2 separate regions of the Homo sapiens genome follow, and region 1 is reported to be linked to region 2. Evidence: microRNA targets listed by miRTarBase, many of them from high-throughput screens and not tested one by one. Region 2 holds a microRNA gene; the other region holds the end of a gene's coding sequence.

The links. The annotated mature microRNA hsa-miR-3135b reads GGCUGGAGCGAGUGCAGUGGUG and lies in region 2 at 2,149-2,170, opposite strand. An mRNA with a match to its seed (bases 2 to 7 or 8) in the 3' UTR can be bound and repressed. Matches are read on the target gene's strand: a 7mer-m8 pairs with bases 2 to 8, a 7mer-A1 pairs with bases 2 to 7 and ends in A, and an 8mer does both.
Region 1: the mRNA of POFUT4 is a reported target of hsa-miR-3135b. The part of its 3' UTR that is shown has no 7-base or 8-base seed match.

What each region holds. Positions count from the first base shown.
Region 1 is chr10:73,775,326-73,778,325 of GRCh38, forward strand. It overlaps POFUT4 (protein O-fucosyltransferase 4), which reads left to right. Exons shown (of 3, transcript NM_173540.3): 3 at 216-894. The coding sequence ends at 360. Among named protein-coding and RNA genes, the nearest start is that of POFUT4, 4.6 kb to the left of the region's middle.
Region 2 is chr6:32,747,804-32,750,954 of GRCh38, forward strand. It overlaps MIR3135B (microRNA 3135b), which reads right to left and starts at 2,176; the gene lies at 2,109-2,176.

The DNA of each region.
Region 1 (3,000 bases), not on the chromosome of region 2:
TTGGGTAGTCTGTGTGATGTCTTTGTGTTTGTGACTTACTGCCTGTCGCTTGGGCTTATATTGGATTTACTTCACTTTGTCTTCCTTTCACAGCAGTCTTGTCCAAGTTAGAGACCACTGTATCTGCTTAAGATTTCTTTGGCCCCACTCGGAAAAAGGCAGGACTCATAACTATGCTGCAGTTCCATAATCCAACCCCCATTTTGATATTTCAGTTGGAAAGAGATGTGGCTGCAAGATTATTGGCAAGGTCTGGACCAGGGGGAAGCTCTCACTGCCATGATCCACAACAATGAAACAGAGCAGACGAAATTTTGGGATTACCTACATGAAATCTTCATGAAGAGGCAACATCTCTAAGTGCCCTTGCAAGAGCCTTTAACTTGGCGGAGCTAAGGAGATCTTATTCTACCATGGGACATAAGGAGCATCCACTGCACAAACCCTTAATGAACACTGTCTTTTCATGGATTCAAGGAATTCCAGTTTTATCTATTAAGATTTTATCTTAATGATGAGTAGCCAAGGTCTAACATAGGGCCTCTCCTCAAGGAGAGATGGAGGGATACAATTCTTGGTTCAGTGGGAAACAGAACCCTAAAACATCCATTTGATTCAAGGTGCTGGTCCAACAGAGTTTTTAAACTACTCACTTCTTTATTTCATCCTTTCGACTGTACTTGATTACCAGTGAAGTAAGATGGGTCAGGTTACGACTTACAACTTTTGTTCTATTCCCCAGACTCCTCATTATTCAGTACATTTCCCAATAATCTCTTTTTCTCATCTCTTGCTTTATAAATTGTTACGTTGGTGGAGAAGCAAAACATTTGGTGAGTTGTATTCTGGTTTTCCGGAGTTGGATTTTTTTATATTATATACTTTCATGTCAAACTTCTATTTTACTTATTTATTTATTTTTTTAAAATATTTTTTGTAGAGATGAGGTTTTGCCACATTGCCCAGGTTGGTCTCCAACTCCTGGATCAAGCAATCCATCCGCCTTGACCTCCCAGAGTGCTGGGTTTACAGGCATCAGCCACCTCACCCAGCCCTAATTTTTTTTTTTTTTTTGGCTTTTTCTGGCCAGGCGTAGTGGCTTATGCCTGTAATCCCAACACTTTGGGAGGCCGAGGAGAGGCGACTGCTTGAAGCCAGGAGTTTGAGACCATCCTAGCAAGACCTTGTCTCTAAAAAATAAAAGAATTAGCAGGGCATGGTGGTGCACACCTGTAGCCCTAGATACTTGGGAGGTTGAGGCAGGAGGATCACTTGAGTCCAGGAATTTAAGGCTGCAATGAGCTATGATCATGATCACTGCACTCCAGCCTGGGTGACAGAGCGAGACACCGTCTCAAATTATATATATATATTAAGATGGAGTCTTGCTTTGTCACCAGCTGGAGTGCAGTGGCATGATCTCGGGTCACTGCAACCTCCACCTCCCTGGTTCAAGCGATTCTCCTGCCTCAGCCTCCTGAGTAGCTGGGACTACAGGCATGCACCACCACGCCCAGCTAATTTTTTGTATTTCTAGTAGAGACAGGGTTTCGCCATGTTGGCAAGGATAGTCTCGATTTCTTGACTTCGTGATCCGCCCGCCTTGGCCTCCCAAAGTGCTGGGATTACAGGTGTCAGCCACCGCACCCGGCCTCAAATACATTTTTTTAATGGCCTTGTCTTTCCTGGTTTTAGGCCCTTTTCCACAATTTCTGATGGAAATACAGAAACCTTGCCATCATTCTTACTGCTGGTTTGCATCTCATTTATGGTGTATCTGGGATTTCTTCTCATGAACAGAAAGATTCAGTGGCTGTTATATGCCTTGTCAATTTAATGTATTGCCCTATCCTCTTTTTGATCAAAGATAGAGACTAAGACTGGGAATTATGACAGAAAAAGTCATATTTTTCTTTAAATGATTTTGAAATGTTAAAATAGGCCAATATGAGTCAAAGTGCAAATTTTTTGGTGAGTAGGTTGACAAAAAAAAAAAAAAATCCAGGAAAAAAAGTGCAAATTTTTATAGGTCCTAATTCTTTTGTTTGCCTAATGAAGTGTTCCCTCTATTTTATTGTTTTTATATGCTACAAAGTCCCATCTTCTGCAGTTATGGAAACAGTGTGGCTGTATGTTTTAGTAATTATTTCATAATCTGTAGCACTTTTCACTTTAAGTGCAATGAATAGTCCAGCTTCATTCACTGTATTACTAATACGCTTCCCTATGACTTTTTTTTTTTTTTTGAGATGGAGTTTCGCTCTTGTTGCCCAGGCTGGAGTGCAGTGGCGCGATCTCAGCTTACTAGAATCTCTGCATTCCCAGTTCAAGTGATTCTCCTGCCTCAGCCTCCCTAGTAGTGGGGATTACAGGCGCCCGTCACCACATCTAGCTAATTTTTGTATTTTTAGTAGAGATGGGGTTTCACCATGTTGGCCAGTCTGGTGTCGAACTCCTGAGCTCAGGTGATTCACTTGCCTTGGCCTCCCAAAGTCCTGGGATTACAGGCGTGAGCCACCGTGCCCAGGTGCCCCCACCTTTTTTTTTTTTTTGAGGCAGAGTCTCACTCCATCACCAAGGCTAGAGTGCAGTGGCGTGATTTTGGCTCACTGCAGCCTCTGCCTCCCAGGTTCAAGCAATTCTCGTGTCTCAGCCTCCAGAGTGGTGGGATTACAGGCACGCACTACCATGCCTGGCTAATTTTTTTGTATTTGTTTTAGTAGAAACAGGGTTTTGCCATGTTGGCCAGGCTGGTCTCGGACTCCTGACCTCAAGTGACCCACCCGCCTCGGCCTCCCAAAGTGCTGGGATTACAGGAGTGAGCCCCGTGCCCAGCCTGAGACTACTTTTTGATGGAGCCCACTCAAGGGGATGAGGAGGTTTAAGCCACAAGTGGCTGGCTAAATAAAAGCTTAGTCAGAGCTGGGCACGGTGGCTCACACCTGTAATCCCAGCTACTTGGGAGGCTGAGGCAGGAGAATTGCTTGAACCTGGGAGGCA
Region 2 (3,151 bases):
AAGGAACAAATGCTTGTTCCTTACTTAGGGTTAGTGACAATGGAAAACAGATAGAAGTAGAAGCTACAGACCCATTTAGGGGCCCCAGCCCCCTGCTCCTCCCCCTTCCTGGCTAAGGAAAGCATGAGCCTATGAGAGAGAAATCCTAGGAAGAACAAGACAGTTGAGACAATGTAGCAGCAGTAGTGGGTGCTGTGTCCTACACTGGATTCGTGGTCTCCTAATAGAAAATCTCTCAGAGGAAATGGGTCCACAGGGACCTGAGAGCTCTAAACAGCTATGAAATCTGCCAGGATATTTCTGTCCATGCTATCTGCATCAGTGAGTTTAAAATGTAATAGGAGAAAAAAAAGAGACAAAACATTAACATAATAATTGATACAGCATAGTTTTGTACAAAGAAACCTAAATCCAAATACTTGACTCAGTATTTTGAAGCTAGTATTTTAAACTTTACTGGGTAAAGTATCTGATTGACATTTCTGAACCTTATTTTTCTCATCCACAATGTGGGAGTGATAATATTTTCCTTGCAGAGTTATTGACAGAATTTGAATAATCTTGGTATATAGACAGTGCCTTACACGTAGTATATAAATATATAAGAAAACACTGCAGTTATGTTTATAATGGATTTATTAAAAAGAATGGATCATATTATATGAAAAGTACATTTGTTTTCCTTAGCCCTTTAGTGATTTAGGAGATTCAAGCGTAGACGTAAAAGTGAGTTTCTTTTCATATGTTAACTGGAGGATTTTTTTCTTTCTTGAGAGGCTGAGATTGGGTTGCTAAGAGAACTCTTAGGACAAGAAGTTGTAATATTTGACTTCGGTTTTTAACTCTCTAAGGGGTATATTCCCTCCTTATGTCCCATAAATTTTAAGTCAAGGTGAATTATATGCAACAGCAGTTTATCCATATTTACTTTGGGGAGGAGGTGGGGAGACTCCGGGAGAAAATAATTATAAATGCAGACTGGGAATTAGTAAGTGCAGGGAATCTGAACCAGTGGTGATCATGAAAACGTCCATCACAGAACACAGAGGATTTTTAGGGCAATGAAACTACTCTATTTGATACCACAATGGTGAATAAATATCATTATGCGCTTGCCCAAATCCATAGAATGTACAACACCAAGAATGAACCTTAATATAAACTATGGACTTTGGGTGATAATGATGTGTCAGTGTAAGTTCATAAGTTGTAGCAAATGTACCTCTGTCATGAAGGATGTTACTAGTGGGGGAGGCTATGCATGTGTGGGAACAGAGAGCATATGGGATACATCTATCTGTACTCTACAATTTTTCTGGGAACCTAAAACTTCTCTAAAATAAACTCTATTAAAAAAAAAGAAAAGAAAAGGTCAACAATAATGATCCCAAATATATAAAATTAAAACTGTAGTATAAAAATGGTCACATGAAAATGCATGAATGTGCTAAGAACTTTTCTGCAATAGGATTTAAAATAAATTTTATATAAATTTCAATGATTCATGAGCCAAGAACCCAGCATTCTGGAGGTGTGTGCATTTGTGTGTGTGTGTGTGTGTGTGTGTGTGTGTGTGTGTGTGTAAGGCTTACATTGAATGGCATTATAACCAGAGTCATACAGAAATACACAAATGCTCCCCTATTTAGAATCCTTCCCCAAGAAATACTGAGGAAAGCAAATATAATGGTAGTTGGATTTTACTGAAAGAATGTATTCAAAAAGTATTTATATAATGTTAAAATAGCATAGCTAAAATTAGTTTTATAAAATAGAGCAAATATATCTTTTTATCAGCTAAAAGTTCAAAGTGAAATCATCATTATTATATTATTATATTATTATTATAAACAGTTATAAATCAGGCTGCATGATTTTAAATTAAATGATTCTTAAAAATTGTTATCTGAATTATTTCAGATTACATACATAAAGTATGACTTCATTAATAGGTAATATCACATTGTTTAAATTTTACAAAATTTCCAGTCACAATGGTTCATGCCTGTAATCTCAGCACAAGGTGAGGGTCCCTTAAAGCCCAGGAGATGGAGACCAGTCTGTAGTCCCAGCTAGTAGGGAGGCTGAGGCAGGAGGATTGCTGCTTGAGCCCAGGAGTTCGAGGCTGCAGTGAGCTAGGACTGACTGCACCACTGCACTCGCTCCAGCCTGGGCAACACAGCGAGACCCCGTCTCTAAAAATAAATAAATAAATGAATAAATAAATAAAAATTACAAAACGTAAAAATCACGTAAAATATTTCAGGTTTGTACTTACCACATACAAACTAGAGATATGAAGAATTAAACATTACAAATAAAGCACTTCACACACAGTCTGGCCCATAGTAAGCAGTTTATAGAAGTTAACAAATTTGTGTTATTGTTATTTTCTGGAGTCCAAGACAAAATCCCATGATGAATGACACCACAAGGATGTAAGCAACAAAATTCAGAATATGAGAAGTTCTACTAGATTAAATAAAAAGATTTCTCCAGCAAACAATTTGCAAAAAAAGTTAAAAATAGAGAAAAGAAAAGCTATACACTTGAAAAAGACTGAAGAAATATAGTAACCAAACGCTGAGCTTTGTCTAGATTCATATTCAAACAAAACATCTGTTAAAAAATTTATATGAGGCAATCAGAAAAATTGACACTGAGTGTATTAAGGAATTATTTATCTCGTTTTAAATGTGTTAGTGGCATTGCTGTTATGTTTCTAAAAAGCCATTATATTTTAGATTTTCATAATAAAAATGTATAAATGAAATATGATACCTAAAAATATCTTCAAAATAATCCAGTATGTGCCTGTATGATAACTGGGTGGGTTTACAAAATTGCTCATGAATTGATTATTGTTAAAGCAAGGCTGTTGATACATGGAATTCTTCTCTGTACTATTGCACACAGTTGAAATTTTCTGTAATACAAAGGTTTTTTTTTTAAATGTATTCAGGAAAGTCCCATAAACATAGGCAGACAAGCATTCTGTTTGAAGTTATGTTAGTTTTTCAGTTTTTCTCATTTTTATCACATTTAGGAAACCCTGTCCAAGGCCTGCCCAAGACTGTAAGAACCTCTCAGGAATGCAACTATAAAGAATGTGTATGCAGGAACTAATAATAACAAAGGAAAGCAAAGTAAT